Homo sapiens: one gene and its partners. The protein of the gene in region 1 interacts with the protein of each later gene in a biochemical or structural test. Each region holds a gene or a part of one and is shown in the gene's direction. Other genes may lie near its edges. The genes, in order: PGF, FLT1 and NRP1.

Region 1 (8,522 bases):
ACCCATGGGCTCTTCTCCTGGCCCCCTTCCAACAGGGCCCCACCCCAGGCCTCCCACTGGGTTCTGGTCTCTGGCCTGAGACATAAGCCTTGTCCCCTGGTGGCTGGTGGGGCTGTGGTGACCAACCCAGCACATGATTACACAGTAACAAGAGATGGTTCCCCCACACTCTCCGTCCCTCACCATCAGAGGGGCCCACCCAAGTTGAAAGTTCTTGAGTATGGGGTCTAGGAGGGGGCACCTCTGAACAGCTGAAGGGCACGTGAGTAAGGGAGGGCCAGACTTGGGACATTTTCCCCATGCGGAAGGTCTAGTCTCTGAGGATTGATCCAACTCAAAACATATCAATTAAGGCCTACTATGTCCCAGACACTGAGCAAGGTGTGGAGGCTACAAGGGTAAACAAGAGACACAGTACCTGCCCTCTTAGATCTTACCATCTTTTAGGCAAGACAGATAAGCAACTGGGCAATTGTGATACTGAAGGCCAGGTGCCATGATGGAGGGGAATTCAAGGTACTGTGGGAACCTGTACCAGGGATGTCTTACCCAGTGCTGGTTGCCAGGGAAGCCATGGAATCCTGCCTAGAACAAGTGCATAAAGAGAAGAAGAGCTCAGGATGGAGGCTGGGGTGGGTCCACAGGAAATCGCAGCCCAGGAGGCAGGGCAAGAAGGCAGAGGCCAACCAAGCATCTGCTTGCTAGCAGCTTTGAGTAGCTGCTGGCTATAATGCAGGTTCAGTCTATAAAGTGAAAAGGCCCTTGGCCCAGAGCTGCCCACTGTTTCCCTTTCTACCAGTCATGAAGGGGAAGATAATCCTTGGATGCTACACTTCTCAGCCACCCAAGTCCGGGACTCAGGAACAAGGTCAGAAGCAGAGGGTGTTTACCCAGGACCACTTGAGACACCTCTCCAGAGGCAGGTGCTGAATTGTCGTTAAGAGAGGACAAGTCATCACTGGGGAAAAGTTCATAGGGCCAAGACAACAAAGAGGCTAGAAAATGGGAAAATGGCTAGAAAATGGGGAAGTGAGTCAGGAAGCTGAAAGCCTACAAGCTGGGATGGGTTGGGGCAGGTGTTTCAGGCTAACACGATGACTAATAATATGGGAAACTGTGTTTGCAGGATGCCTTGGGGGCCAGGGGCTGGCCTGCAGACTGGAAGCCATGACTGCTCAGGGTCCACTGCATTGTCATGGCCCAGTGTTTCCACACCCAACCCCTCATGTTTATCTGTATCTGCCCGACTCCCCGCATAAGAGTCAGCTCCTGAAATCAGGGCTCCTTCCTTCCACACATCAACCATCCCAAGTCTGTCAAGCATCCATTCTGCTCCAGCATGGGGAAGACCCAGAAACGGCTCAAGACATCAGCCCTCACCTTCAACGTCCTTGCAGTAAGGTTGGGAGCTAGCGCTTAGGTTCACTGGAAAGACCTTTGGAGAAAGATCTCGGCTTGATCCCCATCACTGTTCCTTTTTAAGTAGCTAAACGACTATTGGAAAATTACATAAACTCCCTGGGCCTCCATCTTTCCATCTTCAAAATGGAAATAATTAAAACCTACCACTACAATGTGATCAGAATTCAATGAGTCAAGGTGGTTAGAGCACCAAGCACACTGTTTGGCATATAATAGATGTTCAATAAATATTACTTCTCTCCCTGAAACAACAGCAAGAGATTGTGGTGATAAACAGTTAAGTGTTGAGTTGTGGGCACTGACTGCCACCCCCTAAGCACCTGGGTCTACTTCAAGGGCCTCAGTGACAGTTGAGGATTGAGAGCCTGCACTGTGATGGTGAGAATTAGTGTTTGTGTGCACCTATGCAAATCGCTCCATTTTCTTTCTCCACTGCCACAGGCAGAAGCATAAGATTCTTTATTTTCTATCTCATGTCCATGCTACAGGACTCTGCTCTGTAACTGTAGTTTGTTTTTTGTTTGTTTGTTTTGGTTTGTTTTTTTGAGATGGAGTTCTACTCTGTCGTCCAGACTGGAGTGCAGTGGCACGATCTCGGCTCACTGAAACCTCTGCCTCCTGAGTTCAAGTGATTCTCCTGCCTCAGCCTCCCGAGTAGCTAGGATTACAGGTGCCTCCCACCACGCCCAGTTAATTTTTGTATTTTAAGTAGAGACGGGGTTTTACCATGTTTGCCAGGCGGGTCTCGAACTCCTAATCTCAGGTGATCTGTCCTTCTTGGCCTCCCAAAGTGTTGGGATTACAGGCGTGAGCCACTGCACCTGGTCTAACTGTAGTATTTTTATTTCTCTAATACAAGTCAAAAATTAAATTAGAAATCGTGATCAATTGCTACCATTCTTTGCACCAAAGGTGCTTTCTCAGTCCTCGCACAACCCTATGAGGTAAGTACTGTTATCATTCCCACTCCTACAGATGGAGGAAGCTGGGGCTCTGAAAGCAAAGGAAGCTGCTTGAGGCGATGTGGCTGGTCAATAGTGGGGCCAGTGTACAAAGGAGCACAGCCTGGGCAAGATGGCAAGACCCTGTCTTTACCCCCAAAAAAAAAAAGTTTTTAAATTAACTGGGCATGGTAGCACACACCTGTAGACCCAGTTATTCTGGAGGCTGAGGCGGGAGGATCCCTTGAGCCCAGGAATTGGAGGCTGCAGTGAGCTATAGCCAGTGCTACACCAGTGCACTGTAGCCTGGGAGAGAGAGCAAGACCTCGTTTCTAAAAATTAAAATTAAAATTACAAAAATTTAAAAAAAAAACAAGGGAGCAGAATTACTAGCACAGCTGCTCTGGACTGGATGTGAGCAAGAACAAACTTTGATTCAATCCATGGAAATGTTAGAGTCTCCTTGGTCTCTGCCGCTGAGCCTACCCTAGGCTAATTCATCTCACAGCCCAGGAAGCTGGGTTTAGAAGGGTATGGTCCCCAATTTAGTGATGAAGGACTGAGGTGCACTTGTGGGAACCACAGACTTCGCCCAAGGTGTTGAGTTCACTCAGGAAAGAGAACTTCGGCATCCCCAGCCATCGGTATCCCCCTACTCCATGAATGTAAACTCAGAGAGACCCTCCATATCATATCCCTAGCACCTAGAGCAGTTCCTGGAGCATAGCAGGGCTCAGGCAATACATGCCAAATGAAAAAACAAATTAATGAATACAGGCTGGGCGCGGTGGCTCACACCTGTAATCCCAGCACTTTGGGAGACTGAGGTGGGTGGATCACTTGAGACCAGGAGTTCTCGACCAGTCTGGCCAACATGACAAAAACCTGTCTCTACTAAAAATACAAAAATTAGCCAGGCATGGTGGTGTACACCTGCAATCCCAGCTACTTGGGAGGCTGAGGCACAAGAATCGCTTGAACCCATGAGGCAGATGTTGCAGTGAGCCGAGATTGCGCCACTGTCTACCAGCCTAGGCGACAGAGCAAGACTCTGTCTCAGAAAAAAAAAAAAAAAATACAAACTCATACACAATAGACACATCCCATGCATAAGTGCTAGAAACACTCAGTTATAGACAAGCATATACAATGAAGATACTTAAGCACACGCGCACACACTTGTGCACAATACACACCTGTGCCCACATACACAAATCCATACCCAAACTAAAGACACACACAAACACGTGTATGTATACAAAGATGTTATGGGCAACATATACAATACATATATGCACAAACACACACCTACTCACCCTCACACACATGCACAGTGACCCTCCACAATGATTCTGGGCCCAGGAAGCAGTTTGTCTACCCCACGAACCCCAGCTTGTTTGAAGCTCGTCAGGATGTTCCTTGCAGACCCCGCTTAGCCAGCTGGTGACTGGCCCCCGCCTCCTGAACCTCCAGGCTTAGGGCCGGCCAGGCAGGCAGGCTGCATCTCTGGCAGCCCCTCGTGGGTGGGCAGGCAGGCAGGCAGTGGACGCAGAGGTCACTGGGGTGAGAGCTGGGGCTGCCCTGGCCTCCCTGCTCTTGGCTGGAATGTGAGCTGTAGGGGCCACTTCCCAGGCCTCGCTCCTCCCCCACAGCCACCCACCAGCCCCAGGCCCAGCCAACTCGTGACTCCCAGTCCTGCCAGGTTCCTGCAGCCTGGGAGCTGGACACAGAAGGCAGTGAGAGGAGTGGTGGTAAAGAAAGATCCAGAACCAAGGGAGGGCACACACAAACGCAGAGAGAGAGGCACAGTCTTCACCCACAGAGACAGACACACACACGCAGAGACAGGCAGGCGTGCAGACTCACAGTCCCACCGAAAGATACACATTCAGACACTTCCAAACACACCCAGATACACAGCGGACACGAACAGATCACACAAGCATACAGAGATACAGAGAGACCTGACCCCCACACAGAGGCGTATTTGGAGGTACAGTAGTCACACGTACTCAGACCACACAGAGGCTCAGATGCACCGCTCATGGATATTCACAGACCCGCAAATGCCCATGCACACGCGCAGATGCACACAGACCCCCGCGCAGCGTACAGTTCCTCCTCGGCCAGGGACCAGGAGGAGATGCCTGAGTGAGACCACTCTCTACCACAGGGGGCTGCCCCGCAGGGAGGGCCTGGGAAGACTGCTTCCCAAGGAGGCAACAGGCCTGATCCTCCAGCCAGGTGCCCTGAGAGGTTTCCTGTGGGAGGCCCACTGTGTCCGTGCCTGGCTAGGAGGGTGGTAGGTCGGGTTAGAGTTCTGGAGTCACGTAGGCTTGGGTTTTGTCTCTGCCAGTTCCTCGGACACACAGATGCGCGCACACACACAACACACACACACTTTCCAAGAATGCCTATGTCCATTCGACATATGCAGGCAGGGGTGCTCTCGGAGCCTCGGTTTCTTCATCTATATAACCTGGCTAGGAATCCCTTGGCCCCCTAGGGGTGTGGGCATGGCTGCCTTCCCAGGCATCCCGGACGGCCCTTCCTGCAGAGGCGGTTAGATCATGAGCCTTGACGGCTGACGCTGGACTCCTGGATGCCCCCATCCCAGGTGACCGCCCTGAGAGCCGAAGCAGGGCTGTGGGCCCTGTGGGCGGGCGCGGCGCGGCCCGGGGAGCTGCGGGCTGGGCTCGGCGAGGCGTCTGGACCTGCCGAGAGCCCCTCGCACGCACTGCGGGCTCCGGCGCTGCGGGCTGGCCGGGCGCTGCGGGCTGACCGGGCGCTCCGGGAACTCGGCTCGGGAACCTCGTCTGCGGTGGGCGGGGCCGGCCCGGAGCCCCGCCCCGGCTCAGTCCCTGAAACCCAGGCGCGGACCGGCTGCAGTCTCAGAAGGGAGCTGCTGTCTGCGGAGGAAACTGCATCGACGGACGGCCGCCCAGCTACGGGAGGACCTGGAGTGGCACTGGGCGCCCGACGGACCATCCCCGGGACCCGCCTGCCCCTCGGCGCCCCGCCCCGCCGGGCCGCTCCCCGTCGGGTTCCCCAGCCACAGCCTTACCTACGGGCTCCTGACTCCGCAAGGCTTCCAGAAGATGCTCGAACCACCGGCCGGGGCCTCGGGGCAGCAGTGAGGGAGGCGTCCAGCCCCCCACTCAGCTCTTCTCCTCCTGTGCCAGGGGCTCCCCGGGGGATGAGCATGGTGGTTTTCCCTCGGAGCCCCCTGGCTCGGGACGTCTGAGAAGATGCCGGTCATGAGGCTGTTCCCTTGCTTCCTGCAGCTCCTGGCCGGGCTGGCGCTGCCTGCTGTGCCCCCCCAGGTAAGAGCTACCCCCACCTAGCCTGGCTCCCCAGACCTCCCCATCCCAGCACTGGAAGCATGGGACTCTGAAATCACAGACCCACTCCAGGGAGCAGCAACTCCAAGGATGTCCACACACTTCCTAAAGGCCAGGCTGGACTTCTTTCGTTTGGGAAGAGACCTCAGGCTGGCTGTCCCCCAGGTCCTGGGGGCTGTCTTGGTGGGGGCAGGGAAGCCACAGGGAGGGAGGGAGGGAGGGAGGTTTCCTGTCTGGCCCCTGGAGCCCTGGTGGCTTTGCTAAAAGCATCTGTCCACTAATCCCAGGCGGGTCCCTGGCCTTGTGGTCAGGGTCGAGGCCCCATGGCCAACCAGGCGTCCCCAGGACCTCTGACCTGGCCTGGTGGGGGTGGCGGAGGAGCCAGCTGAAGAAGCTGTTGGTGGGGAGGCTGGCCCTGCCCCCACCAGGGCTCAGGACTGAGCCGTGGGCTCCTGGGTGGGCTGGGGACGAGACAAGGGGTCTCGCTGTGCCTTTTCTCCTGGGTGGGTGGCCGGAGGTCCTGAGTGCAGGGCCTGGGGAAGTGAGCAGGGCCCTTTTCCCAGGAGCCGGGTGAGTCTGGCTGGGAGCCAGCTTGGGCAGTGAAATCCTGACAAAGCCAATGAACTGCCTTCCCACTGCGTTGTCCCACTGCCCTGGGAGTCCCCAGCCCCAGCCCAAGAGTAGGAGTGGGCTGGGCAGTCCCTGAGGAGTCCGAGCAGCCCAGCCACCCGCCTGCCTGCTGCAGGGCTGGCCAGAGGTGTAACGTTACCGGCTGCACCAGCTCATGGCGCCACCCGCTCCAGCCCCTCAGCTCCCACCAGCTGATCACCTCCCCCTGGGCTCTGGCACCCAGCCAAGGCGGGCTGTGCAGGGCCCAGCAGGGTTGGCCTGGGGGCTGGGTAGAAGGCAGACCCGCAGGATTGGAAGATCTTTGGGATGCAGCAGGCCAAGGGTCTCCAAAAGCTTCTAGCCTCCCATCCTTTTCCAAATGAGGAAAACTGAGGCCAGAGAGGGGTGGGACCTAACCTACCCAGGGTCCAGTGAGTTTTTAGTGGTACTCAGGCTGCTCTGAGACAGGGCAGAGCATGTGCAGCAAGTGGGAAGGAACCCAGAGGGGCCCCTACCTTCTTGCCATCACACTTGGCCCAAGAGTGCAGAGCTCCAAGGTACCCCCAGCTCACCTCTGCACTTTTCTGTCCATAGCAGTGGGCCTTGTCTGCTGGGAACGGCTCGTCAGAGGTGGAAGGTAAGCTGGCCAGGCTGGGGGTACGCATGCTCCCCAAGCCCCTCTCTTCCTTTCTCCCAAGCCCAGGTGTGGCATGAAGCGTGGGTGCAGGTTGATAAAAGCTGGGGAGAGCCTACAAGCTAGACATGCTGGGTGATGACTTTGGCAGGGCCTAAGAGATCCCCTCATGGTGACCCAGAGACTAGAGAGGTGTGGGCTGGAGTCACCAGCACACGGAGAGTGGGGCTGGGGCCAGTATAGCCAGGGTTCATCCAGCTGGCTCAGAGCCCTTCCCCAGCATGATTTAAGGGTATGGATGGGGTCTTGGAGGACAGGGTGGGGAGTGAGTGCCAGGGGCCAGAATGGGGGTCTGGGAGCTGAATGCAGTGGGCAGTCAAGAGGATCAGGAATGGGTGAGGGGCCCTCCCCAGCAGCCCAGCCCTGGTGGAACTGCCGGGATCTGACCATGCGTTTCCATTGATTATAAACAGACAGAACATAGTCGCGCCCTCCCTGGCCCCTCCACTCCCCGCCCTGGTTGCATCAAGAGGGAGTCTTCAAAGGGCAACGAGACGTTTGCCAAAGAGACATATGTACAGAAGGCAGGAGGCCCATGCCAGGCCCCCTACCTCGCTCCTCCCTCCCTGCCTCTCCAAGACGTGCAAAGTGGCCACACACCACCGCTGAGGTTTCCCCTGCGCCATGGGAGAGTGGGCATGTAGGGACATGCACACGCACACGCGTGATAGCCATCTGCGTGCTGGGAACACCCTCTGCTGGGCTGCCTGCCTGGCAGCCCGCCTCTCCCGGGCCTGGCCATACTCTGACACCTAAGGCTTAGGCCCCTAGACCCCTGAGCAGGTAGAGGAGGTAGCTGCCCTTGACCTCATGGATGCCTCCCTTGCTGTGCCTCTGGAACCAGCACAACATTATGCTCCTTGGGATTTGGGGAAGGACCCATCCCCTACCTCCACACTATGCCCTTTTTGGTGCTTTTAGTGTAGGTCAGGCCACAGCTACCAAAGATGCCTTAGCCTCAGTTTTCTCATCTGTAAAATGGGAGCCTTGGCTACATGATGTCTATGGTTTCTTCTTTTTCCGAGATTGAAAAAGGGACTTGTCCTCTGACTCCAGGGAGGAGAAATGGGTGTACATATCACCCAGGATTTGAGGTGGGGAGGCCTGGAAGTGTAGATTCATTAGGTCAGCTCTCCTGTCACACTTATCAATCAGGGAGTCTGCAATCTGACCGGGAGAAGTACAACGAGCTTTGCACCCCAGCTCTCAAAATCTGAAAATGGCATCCCCACCTGTTAACACCACAGCCAGAGACAGCATGGCCAGCCATGGGCATTGATTTTTACTATTACTATTCACGGTAACAATGTTAGGCATTTTCTGTCATTCTGTTTTGACCACAGGCTGTGAAGTAGGAAGGGGTTGTACTCCATTTTTACAGATGCAGGCAGGCCCTGAGGCTCAGAGAGGCCCTGGGGGTCGCCCCAAGCCTCAGACACTCCTCATGGATCTGGCAGAACCAAGTGCTCCCAATAGCTCCGTGGCTGAGCGGGCATGAGCAGGGTGTCCCTTGTG
Region 2 (4,328 bases), on another chromosome or scaffold:
CACAGGCACGACAGGCAGAGAGGCACTCACTTGTGTGTGTGGAGCTTTATTGTTTTTTGAGACTGTTGTAACAAGTTACCACTAACTTGGCAACTTACAAGAGAAATTTATTCTCTTGCAGTTCTGGAGGCCAGAAGGGATATAAAATATGAAAAATTTGAATATTTTGGAGGGTAGGAGGCATTTCTCAGCCTACCACAGAAGCTGTTTGACCCAAGAATAGGAGAGGGCTGCACCCAAGTCTTGGAGTTACTTTCCACCTGGATTATGGATTTGCGTTATCTTATCATACATTTCATACCCTCCCCCAGCCACTGTCTTTCTGCCCAATGACACCAAGCTGTTAAGAGGGAGGCCGTGTGCAGCTTTAGAACAGAGGAAATCTGACAGCAATTGAGGGGGGGGGGGTTCCAAAACCATGAACTCTAGACAGGTATGAACAAATGACCCACTCAGAAAGAGTAGATTTTAGTGTCTTTGTTTTCTAAAAAACCAATTTTGAATATTTGATTTCTTTCCTTTCTTTCTTTAGCTTGAGAGTAACCAGTAAAAGTAAGGAGTCGGGGCTGTCTGATGTCAGCAGGCCCAGTTTCTGCCATTCCAGCTGTGGGCACGTCAGCGAAGGCAAGCGCAGGTTCACCTACGACCACGCTGAGCTGGAAAGGAAAATCGCGTGCTGCTCCCCGCCCCCAGACTACAACTCGGTGGTCCTGTACTCCACCCCACCCATCTAGAGTTTGACACGAAGCCTTATTTCTAGAAGCACATGTGTATTTATACCCCCAGGAAACTAGCTTTTGCCAGTATTATGCATATATAAGTTTACACCTTTATCTTTCCATGGGAGCCAGCTGCTTTTTGTGATTTTTTTAATAGTGCTTTTTTTTTTTTGACTAACAAGAATGTAACTCCAGATAGAGAAATAGTGACAAGTGAAGAACACTACTGCTAAATCCTCATGTTACTCAGTGTTAGAGAAATCCTTCCTAAACCCAATGACTTCCCTGCTCCAACCCCCGCCACCTCAGGGCACGCAGGACCAGTTTGATTGAGGAGCTGCACTGATCACCCAATGCATCACGTACCCCACTGGGCCAGCCCTGCAGCCCAAAACCCAGGGCAACAAGCCCGTTAGCCCCAGGGATCACTGGCTGGCCTGAGCAACATCTCGGGAGTCCTCTAGCAGGCCTAAGACATGTGAGGAGGAAAAGGAAAAAAAGCAAAAAGCAAGGGAGAAAAGAGAAACCGGGAGAAGGCATGAGAAAGAATTTGAGACGCACCATGTGGGCACGGAGGGGGACGGGGCTCAGCAATGCCATTTCAGTGGCTTCCCAGCTCTGACCCTTCTACATTTGAGGGCCCAGCCAGGAGCAGATGGACAGCGATGAGGGGACATTTTCTGGATTCTGGGAGGCAAGAAAAGGACAAATATCTTTTTTGGAACTAAAGCAAATTTTAGAACTTTACCTATGGAAGTGGTTCTATGTCCATTCTCATTCGTGGCATGTTTTGATTTGTAGCACTGAGGGTGGCACTCAACTCTGAGCCCATACTTTTGGCTCCTCTAGTAAGATGCACTGAAAACTTAGCCAGAGTTAGGTTGTCTCCAGGCCATGATGGCCTTACACTGAAAATGTCACATTCTATTTTGGGTATTAATATATAGTCCAGACACTTAACTCAATTTCTTGGTATTATTCTGTTTTGCACAGTTAGTTGTGAAAGAAAGCTGAGAAGAATGAAAATGCAGTCCTGAGGAGAGGAGTTTTCTCCATATCAAAACGAGGGCTGATGGAGGAAAAAGGTCAATAAGGTCAAGGGAAAACCCCGTCTCTATACCAACCAAACCAATTCACCAACACAGTTGGGACCCAAAACACAGGAAGTCAGTCACGTTTCCTTTTCATTTAATGGGGATTCCACTATCTCACACTAATCTGAAAGGATGTGGAAGAGCATTAGCTGGCGCATATTAAGCACTTTAAGCTCCTTGAGTAAAAAGGTGGTATGTAATTTATGCAAGGTATTTCTCCAGTTGGGACTCAGGATATTAGTTAATGAGCCATCACTAGAAGAAAAGCCCATTTTCAACTGCTTTGAAACTTGCCTGGGGTCTGAGCATGATGGGAATAGGGAGACAGGGTAGGAAAGGGCGCCTACTCTTCAGGGTCTAAAGATCAAGTGGGCCTTGGATCGCTAAGCTGGCTCTGTTTGATGCTATTTATGCAAGTTAGGGTCTATGTATTTATGATGTCTGCACCTTCTGCAGCCAGTCAGAAGCTGGAGAGGCAACAGTGGATTGCTGCTTCTTGGGGAGAAGAGTATGCTTCCTTTTATCCATGTAATTTAACTGTAGAACCTGAGCTCTAAGTAACCGAAGAATGTATGCCTCTGTTCTTATGTGCCACATCCTTGTTTAAAGGCTCTCTGTATGAAGAGATGGGACCGTCATCAGCACATTCCCTAGTGAGCCTACTGGCTCCTGGCAGCGGCTTTTGTGGAAGACTCACTAGCCAGAAGAGAGGAGTGGGACAGTCCTCTCCACCAAGATCTAAATCCAAACAAAAGCAGGCTAGAGCCAGAAGAGAGGACAAATCTTTGTTCTTCCTCTTCTTTACATACGCAAACCACCTGTGACAGCTGGCAATTTTATAAATCAGGTAACTGGAAGGAGGTTAAACACAGAAAAAAGAAGACCTCAGTCAATTCTCTACTTTTTTTTTTTTTTCCAAATCAGATAATAGCCCAGCAAATAGTGATAACAAATAAAACCTTAGCTATTCATGTCTTGATTTCAATAATTAATTCTTAATCATTAAGAGACCATAATAAATACTCCTTTTCAAGAGAAAAGCAAAACCATTAGAATTGTTACTCAGCTCCTTCAAACTCAGGTTTGTAGCATACATGAGTCCATCCATCAGTCAAAGAATGGTTCCATCTGGAGTCTTAATGTAGAAAGAAAAATGGAGACTTGTAATAATGAGCTAGTTACAAAGTGCTTGTTCATTAAAATAGCACTGAAAATTGAAACATGAATTAACTGATAATATTCCAATCATTTGCCATTTATGACAAAAATGGTTGGCACTAACAAAGAACGAGCACTTCCTTTCAGAGTTTCTGAGATAATGTACGTGGAACAGTCTGGGTGGAATGGGGCTGAAACCATGTGCAAGTCTGTGTCTTGTCAGTCCAAGAAGTGACACCGAGATGTTAATTTTAGGGACCCGTGCCTTGTTTCCTAGCCCACAAGAATGCAAACATCAAACAGATACTCGCTAGCCTCATTTAAATTGATTAAAGGAGGAGTGCATCTTTGGCCGACAGTGGTGTAACTGTATGTGTGTGTGTGTGTGTGTGTGTGTGTGTGTGTGTGGGTGTATGTGTGTTTTGTGCATAACTATTTAAGGAAACTGGAATTTTAAAGTTACTTTTATACAAACCAAGAATATATGCTACAGATATAAGACAGACATGGTTTGGTCCTATATTTCTAGTCATGATGAATGTATTTTGTATACCATCTTCATATAATAAACTTCCAAAAACACATATATTTTCTCCCTGATTTGCTTGTTAAGTGTAAAAAAGAGGTCACAGGTGTCCCTGGGGGTGGAGGACTAGTGCTCTTTATTAAACACAGCACAAGAAAGATAAAGCAAATGCTGCTGAAGAGAGGGCAAAGAGGTTTCTATCGGTCCTAGAAAATGGCTGTGCTAAACAATCAGAACACTGCAACCAGTAAGTAAAAAACAAAATCAAACTAGGCAGATTGCCCAGAAAACTAAACCCTAACATCAACAGGATCATGAAACAAGTAAAGCATATGCTGGGTGTGAGTGCCAGCCGCAGAGAAAAGTGCCCTCAATTAAAAAGAGGCAGTTGTCCCCAAACACTAATTTTCAGCTGATAAATAATTAGCATAATCACAGAGGGTGTGTACACATGCTGCAGAAAACCACACAAAATAATAGGCAAAAGCTTGAAACCCAAGAATGTAAAAGTACACATGCCAGCTCTGTATTCTTCAATCTTGTTTTGTGGATTATGTCCTAGGAAAACAACTCAGGTCACTAAGTACTAGAAATTGAATAAGTGACCAACACTTTGTCTTAGAAATTGGTCATAGTATTACCCGCCTAATATCATCATAAGGAAACTAGATTGGAAAGATATTTTAAGGGGAAAAAATAGGCCTACTTTCTTTGGGACAAAGACAATAAAAATGGATAAATGACAAATCTCAGTACACTTTTAGTTAACTCAAGAGGGCAAGAGGCATTTTGTCTTCAAGAATCTGAAATCCTTTAAAAAGTATTATGGGT
Region 3 (8,045 bases), on another chromosome or scaffold:
TAAGAAGACCCAGCTTACAAGCTATAGATGCCATACCGAAACATTTTGATGAACAGTGGAAAGTCAGACATCTGGATAATTCCAAATATCTGGGTGTATAAACAAAACAGCAGGCCTCTGAAAACTTTGATCAGAATAAGTTTAATTAAGAATGCATTGTTAATGAACCATAGAAGCCATAATTCTTTGCTTTATCACAAGTAGATGTTTCTGACTTTTAAAATATCTGAAATGACTTAAAGGACTTCAATGAGATTCAGAGACTTGGCCTAGTATTTCAGAGTTGGTCTTTATGGGTCTTGTACTAGGTGGATGTAAGACATAGAAAACCAATTCATATTCCCTAGTTCTTGATATATAATTACAAATAGCATTACTAATGGCAGTGTAATAGCACAGTAATTAGTCTTCAGCTCCATTTGCTACATTGAAACTTTTGTTATACATCATTATATAATAGGATGTTAATTATAACAAAATGGGATAAGCCTATTGGGCCAATTTAAGACAAAGGAGGTCTGTTGGCTGTAATGGGGGTTTTGGTCACTTCAGCAACTTACAAAGCTTTTATTATATAATATATTGAATATATATAATCCCTAAAGCGGCAATAATTTGATAGGATCCATCGAAGAAATTGGGCAAAAAGAAAGGAGCAATGAATAAAGGCTTGCTTCTTCATACTATTAAAGGGAATCTGCTTAGTGCTGCACTATTTAGCAAATCTTCACAAGAATGATAAGGCTTAATAGTTTAGTTGCAACTCCTTTACAAATTACCCACATCCATATCTACACTGCTGTAAAAATGTGTATTTCATGTAGTAACACAGTGTCTGTGATTTCTTCACTTCTCCATTCCAAAGTGAGAGTGATGATGGTGATGTTTTGGGATGTGAGAACAAACTCCACAGACTAAAACAAAGAAACGAAATTAAATTCAGTTCAACAAGTTCTAACGAAATTCAATTCGGTTCAACAAGTTCTAACTGACTACATACCATATGCAAAGCAGCATGCGGATGCTCCAGTGAAAGTACATGGCTGAGCCGGGTGCAGTGGCTCACGTCTGTCATCCCAGCACTTTGGGAGGCCGAGGCAGGAGGATCATTTGAGATCAGGAGTTTAGGACCAGCCTGGCCAACATGGCAAAACCCCATCTCTACTAAAAAATACAAAAATTAGCTGGGCGTGGTGGCACGCAGCTGTAGTAATCCCAGCTACTCGGAAGGCTGAGGCAGGAGAATTGCTTGAACCCAGGAGGCGGAAGTTGCAGTGAGCCAAGGTCATACCATTGCACTCCAGCCTAGGCCACAGAGCAAGACCCCATTTCAAAAAAAAGAAAAAAGAAGGAAGGAAGGAAGGGAGAAAAGAAAAGAAAGCACATAGTTGAGACAATTCTATGGGACTTTTTCTTTTCTTGTGATTTGTCCATTTAGCTGTAGTTGCTGCCAGACATTGTAGTGGGAAATTCACAACTACGGCTCCATTAAACCACTTTGTTTATTTGTTTATGCTGCTACCAATAAAAATATGTGTAAGACAATTGTACAATGATTCATCAAATATGCATCCTTGAACATCTGGGTGTGGATGCTATGAGATTATCAACTATTTATTAATCTTTCATTCATTCATACATAGAACAAATATCTATTAAAGCACCTATGATGTGCTAGACACTGTTGTAAATGCTGGAATACAGCAGTGGACAAAGCACTCAAAAATTCCTGCTCTGTACTTAGTACCACAGGAATACTGGAACTCTACTTCTTCAATAGCTATTTTATGTATTTATCTATTTTTGTAATACACAGGGCACAGTCTCTTGCCTCAAAGAGTTGGCATACTATTCGAGAAGCCAAACTAACGCACACTAAATTTAGGAAGCAGTTATCTACAAACTATAGGATGGTCACCATATGTACGAATCTACTTCAGTAGAACCTATATTCACCAGATTTTTTTCCACATTTCAGATGCCAAAACCATGTCTCTTCCCCCTTCTCTTCTTTTTTTTTTTTTTTAAATTTGTTGTTGTTGTTTTTGCTTTTTTGAGACAGGCTCTTGCTTCCGTCACCCAGGGTGGAGTGCAGTGGCACCATCATGGCTCACTGTAAACTCCATCTCCTGGGCACAAGCTCTCCTTCCGCCTCAGCCTCCTAAGCAGCTGGAAAGCTAATTTTTTTATTTTTGTAGAGATGGGATCTCACTATGTTGCCCAGGCTGGTCCTAAACTCCTAGCCTAATGTGGTTCTCCTGCCTTGCCCTCTCAAAGTGCTGGAATTATAGGCACGAGCCAGCATACCCAGCCCACCCTTGTCTCCTAAAACAACAGATTCTGCTAGCAGCAGTGCTACCTGGATTTAGATATGGCACCTTAAAGGCAGTGTTGTGATGTCACATTACCAATTTCCCGGTCATTTAACATTGCCTCTTTATTGATCTGTTTGGTGATTTCTGATTGAACTAAAAAATCCAAAAGGAGCCCAGTAGACACGTGTGTGTGTGTGTGTGTGTGTGTGTGTGCATGTACCTAAAGGTTTGTGTAGTTTGGTGCATTATATTTTGATGGCAGTTCAAATATCTCTTTCAATTTTGTTTGACTTGTCAGAACCAGCAGACCTGGATAAAAAGAACCCAGAAATTAAAATTGATGAAACAGGTAAATTTGTCTTGCTGACCAATTTTTAAAAAATTTTACTATGGCTTTCATTGTGTTTATGAAGAAACTTTGTGGAACTCTAATACACTGGTATGTCAAAAAGTTCAAATAAAAAACATCTATGCCCATGGCCCTGGGTTGGTGCTGTGGATCGGATTGTGCTCACAGAGTACCCACTTCCGAGCTGCCCATAAGACTTGGGGAGCCTCGGTGACGGGTCCTGCTTGTACACCTGGTTGAGCCTGGGAAGTGTGCTCACCCTGGCCCTTCCCTGCCCAGTCTAGAGGTGGAACATAAAGGATAATCAGCTCAAACACACTCAGTTTATCACTACAAAGACAGAAAATTAGTGAAGACTATTTCCATACACAGTTATTTGAAACCAACCGAAATTCTTCTGTTTGTTGATATCCAGCTAGGATCTTTAAGAGACCAGAGCCCAATTTCTGAGATAATCCATTGTGTTTGATTCATCTTTTCCCATCTTCCTCTACTAGAACCTTGGTTTTGTGATGATGATGATGATGATAAGAAGGATTTATTGAAGAGTTAGTATGTTCTGAGCACTTTACTTACCTGATCTTTTTCTTTTCTTTTTTTCTTGAGACAGAGTCTGTCTCTGTCACCCAGGCTTGGAGTGCAGTGGCGTGATCTCAGCTCACTGCAGCCTCCACCTGCCAGGTTCAAGCGATTTTCCTGCCTCAACCTTCCGAGCAGACTACAGGCCCACACCACCACACTCAACTTATTTTTTTGTCTTTTGTAAGGTGGAGTTTCACCATGTTGCCCAGGCTGGTCTTGAATTCCTTAGCTTAAGCAATTCCCTGGCCTCAGCCTCCTAAAGTGCTGGGATTACAGGCGTGAGCCACTGCACCCGTCCTACATACCTTATCTTATTTAATCCTCACAGCAGCTCTAGGGGTTGTATTTGTCCCCATTTTACAGATAGTGAGACTGAAACTTAAGTAGCATAGCTAATTAGGTGGTAGCCTCACACTTTAGCCTGATGAACTATAAATGTGTGTTTTTGCTGAACGCTGCTTTGTGATCAAATGCAAGACCTTTGATCAGAGTTAGGCCTTGCCTGGTATTAGTCTATTCCCAGAAGTTTCCAGATCTCCCAGCCAGCATTGTGGGCTGTTGGACACTTGCTCCACCATCACTCACAGCTGCTGTGTGGATGGTGCTGCACCCTTATCATCAATGCATGTCAGCATCTGTTGCCCTTAGAAATGGGATCCTACTCTATGGCCAGCCGTGGACTTCATAGAGACAAATAAATATTGCACCTTGCTGTTAGTAATATGAACACATTACCAAGTCCACACAGAGATGTAAACTTTATTAGAGGTTGTTTCAAAACAATATTTCATCAAGGGAGAGAGTATTAATATGCCCCAAGGCTTGTTTTCTCTTGGTTAGGGATTTGCATCTCATATTTTTAGTTTTCTTTGATTGGAATCTTTGTTGATCAGAACACCATTAAGTAAACCCCAGGCATATTGTGCGTTAACATTTTCATCCCGTTTCTAGTACCAGGTAATTAGGCTCAAAGCTCCCATGTTAACAATTTCTCCTGTTCCACTCCAAAGAAAACAAGTCCCCAGTGACTGAGCTGCAGAGCAGTGCAACTGTCTCCAGTTAAACTACCAGGGCTGCAAAGATGCTGATTATTAGTAAATGTCTTCTATTTGGCATGACAGACATGGTTTCTCGATTTGAGCCACACTCTGTTTACATGTCAGCAGCAAGCATTCTCTTGTTCTAAAAAATCACTCCTTCTTTACTGAAACTACTGTAGACTTTGGGCAAAATTCGTTTCACTTGAAGATTTTCCATATGGGAGAACAAACACATGCATAAACCATGCCAGATCCTGGAAACAGCACCACGTAGAAGGGCAGCCATGAAGGTTTTTCTTGTGCCTGTTTTGGGGTTAGGTACATGCACTGGGAATGGTAAAATCCCCTTGCTAGACTAATGTGTGACTAAGCATTTTGCAAAACTTAATGATCACCTATCTAGCCAAGGACTGTAAACACAGATTACAATCTAGGACAGATGGGGCTGCATGAAATCTGAGTTAGATGAGCAAGGAACCTCCCAGTTGATCCAGAATGGGTTGTTTCCACGTGCTAAGCAGTCTGTCAGAAGCCCCAGCGCCCACTCCCCTCTACCACCTCCCACACTTCTGTTCCCAACAATGAGTCAGATATGACAGGCAAAACTGGGGTGTGTGATTTGCTCCTGTTTCGTTCCTTTCTATTTTTCTGTCTGCTTTCATCTGGTCTGTTGGCGGTGCTCACGGAGACAATATTGTTTTTTTCCATAGGGAGCACGCCAGGATACGAAGGTGAAGGAGAAGGTGACAAGAACATCTCCAGGAAGCCAGGCAATGTGTTGAAGACCTTAGACCCCATCCTCATCACCATCATAGCCATGAGTGCCCTGGGGGTCCTCCTGGGGGCTGTCTGTGGGGTCGTGCTGTACTGTGCCTGTTGGCATAATGGGATGTCAGAAAGAAACTTGTCTGCCCTGGAGAACTATAACTTTGAACTTGTGGATGGTGTGAAGTTGAAAAAAGACAAACTGAATACACAGAGTACTTATTCGGAGGCATGAAGGCAGACAGAGATGAAAAGACAGTCAAAGGACGGAAGTGGAAGGACGGGAGTGAGCTGGGGAGCTGTTGATCTTTCACTATACAGGCTGGGAAGTGTGTTGATGACCACTGAGCCAGGCTTTTCTCAGGAGCTTCAATGAGTATGGCCGACAGACATGGACAAGGAGCTGTGTTCACCATCGGACTCATGTGCAGTCAGCTTTTTTCCTGTTGGTTTCATTTGAATAATCAGATGCTGGTGTTGAGACCAAGTATGATTGACATAATCATTCATTTCGACCCCTCCTGCCCCTCTCTCTCTCTCTCCTCTCCCCTTTGTGGATTCTTTTTGGAAACTGAGCGAAATCCAAGATGCTGGCACCAAGCGTATTCCGTGTGGCCCTTTGGATGGACATGCTACCTGAAACCCAGTGCCCAGAATATACTAGAATCACCGCATTTCAGTGGACTCCTGAAGTTGTACTTGTGTATAATTGCCCGCGTCGTGCATAGGCAAAGAAGGATTAGGCTGTTTTCTTTTTAAAGTACTGTAGCCTCAGTACTGGTGTAGTGTGTCAGCTCTGTTTACGAAGCAATACTGTCCAGTTTTCTTGCTGTTTTTCCGGTGTTGTACTAAACCTCGTGCTTGTGAACTCCATACAGAAAACGGTGCCATCCCTGAACACGGCTGGCCACTGGGTATACTGCTGACAACCGCAACAACAAAAACACAAATCCTTGGCACTGGCTAGTCTATGTCCTCTCAAGTGCCTTTTTGTTTGTACTGGTTCATTGTGTTACATTAACGACCCACTCTGCTTCTTGCTGGTGAAAGCCCTGCTCTTTAATCAAACTCTGGTGGCCCACTGACTAAGAAGAAAGTTTATTTTCGTGTGAGATGCCAGCCCCTCCGGGCAGGCAAGGGCTCTGAAGATTTGGCAACGTGGCTTAATTGTTCTGCTTTTTCTGTAGTTCAATTTCATGTTTCTTGACCCTTTTGTATAAAGCTACAATATTCTCTCTTATTGTTCTTTCATATGGAATGTATTTTCAAATGTAAACTCTCTTCTCTTTCTCTCTCCTATCTCTCTGTCTTTTTTCTCTCTTAGAATTGGAGGATTTGCCATTGTCCAGGAAAGAAACTTGCAGCTTTAACCTGCTGGGAATGGCAAACGATTTTACTAGACTTTATGTTTAAAAATAAATAAATAAGGGAAATTCCTAACTTTGCCCTCCAAAGTCTAACTTTGGTTTTCTTGTTAACTGGTTAAAGTGACAGTATCTTTTTTCCTTATCTATTCTATTCAAAATGACCTTTGATAGAAATGTTGGCATTTAGTAGAAATAGTGATAAGTTGAGGAAAGAAATAATACAAATTGGCTTTCAAGTGAGACCCAAAGGAAGAACTGGATAAAATCTTCCAAATCCAAAAGCATGAGATTTTTCTATCCAAATATGCAAAAATGACCCAAGAGAACTTTCTTATTTTGCTACTGAGTCACACAAGGGAAGTGGAAGGAAGAACAGTTAATTTAAGAATGAAACTATAAATCCTGATGCCTGGGGGTCAAGTATTTTAAGATAAGAGGGGGAAAAACACATAAAGTCAAACAAATGTTTTAAAAATTCATAACAGCAACCTTGAAAAAATAGACTTAAATGAATGCTTCTAGAAACTTCCAGCGGCTCACAAAGAATAAGCCTGCCTTAGGGCTGGCAACATCTAAGCCTCTAACAGCACAGGGAAGCAAATATCTTACCAGGCAGCCTATGAATTAACCCAAAGAAGCTTTGGTTGGTTTTGGTGGATTTTTATCATGCCATGTTGGACATGAGATTTTTTAGATCTTCCTTCCCACATTGCTAGACGTCTCACTCAAAGACATTTGTTGGGAGTCACATTTGCATCATAGACGAGACAGTCCATTCATCTTAGTTAAATTGGATTGAGAATGCCTTTTGTTTCCAGGAAAATATTGATCACCATGAAAGAAGAATAGTTTTTTGTCCCCAGAGACATTCATTTAGTTGATATAATCCTACCAGAAGGAAAGCACTAAGAAACACTCGTTTGTTGTTTTTAAAGGCAACAGACTTAAAGTTGTCCTCAGCCAAGGAAAAATGATACTGCAACTTTAAAATTTAAAGTATCTTGCACTGATAAATATATTTAAAAATTATATGTTTATAAAGTTATTAATTTGTAAAGGCAGTGTTACAAAATGTTCAGTTTATATTGTTTTAGATTGTTTTGTAATTTTTAAAGGTGTAAAATAACATATTTTTTCTTTATGGAAATCTATAAAACTTTCTGTAGTAAAATGTTTTCATTTTACTGGTATATTATTGCTTCATGTTTTGTACCATCATAAGATTTTGTGCAGATTTTTTTTACAGAAATTATTATTTTCTATGACAATATGACACTTGTAAATTGTTGTTTCAAAATGAACAGCGAAGCCTTAACTTTAAATGACATTTGTATTCTCAGACACTGAGTAGCATAAAAACCACATAGAACTGAACTGTAACTTAAATTCCAAACTATGACTACTACATTCCAAAGAAACAGTTGAATTAAACATTTTCATAAAATATCCCACACCTGATGGCTTTTATTATATTAGCACTGTTCTAGTTAAAGAAGTTGGTGACATGCCACTATCCAATAACTTCCAAGATTTTTAAAAATTCTCTTTTTTAAAATATCCTGATAAGGAGAGAAGATTAAGAAGACATTTTCTGAAAGTAGAATCTCAACTCACATTGGACCCTGTC

The links.
Region 2: the proteins of PGF (region 1) and FLT1 are reported together in a solved structure, tested with the Homo sapiens proteins (2 studies listed by BioGRID and IntAct, with this or other methods).
Region 3: the proteins of PGF (region 1) and NRP1 form a complex in vitro, tested with the Homo sapiens proteins (one study listed by BioGRID).

The regions. Positions count from the first base shown.
Region 1 is NC_000014.9:74,952,332-74,960,853, reverse strand, and holds the start of PGF (placenta growth factor isoform 1 precursor), read left to right. Parts: upstream 1-5,256; 5' UTR 5,257-5,611; coding exon 5,612-5,686; intron 5,687-6,907; coding exon 6,908-6,950; intron 6,951-8,522. UniProt on the Homo sapiens protein: Growth factor active in angiogenesis and endothelial cell growth, stimulating their proliferation and migration. It binds to the receptor FLT1/VEGFR-1. Isoform PlGF-2 binds NRP1/neuropilin-1 and NRP2/neuropilin-2 in a heparin-dependent manner.
Region 2 is NC_000013.11:28,299,573-28,303,900, reverse strand, and holds the end of FLT1 (vascular endothelial growth factor receptor 1 isoform 1 precursor), read left to right. Parts: intron 1-532; coding exon 533-734; 3' UTR 735-3,555; downstream 3,556-4,328. UniProt on the Homo sapiens protein: Tyrosine-protein kinase that acts as a cell-surface receptor for VEGFA, VEGFB and PGF, and plays an essential role in the development of embryonic vasculature, the regulation of angiogenesis, cell survival, cell migration, macrophage function, chemotaxis, and cancer cell invasion.
Region 3 is NC_000010.11:33,177,317-33,185,361, reverse strand, and holds the end of NRP1 (neuropilin-1 isoform a precursor), read left to right. Parts: intron 1-2,613; coding exon 2,614-2,664; intron 2,665-4,996; coding exon 4,997-5,286; 3' UTR 5,287-7,869; downstream 7,870-8,045. UniProt on the Homo sapiens protein: Cell-surface receptor involved in the development of the cardiovascular system, in angiogenesis, in the formation of certain neuronal circuits and in organogenesis outside the nervous system. Mediates the chemorepulsant activity of semaphorins.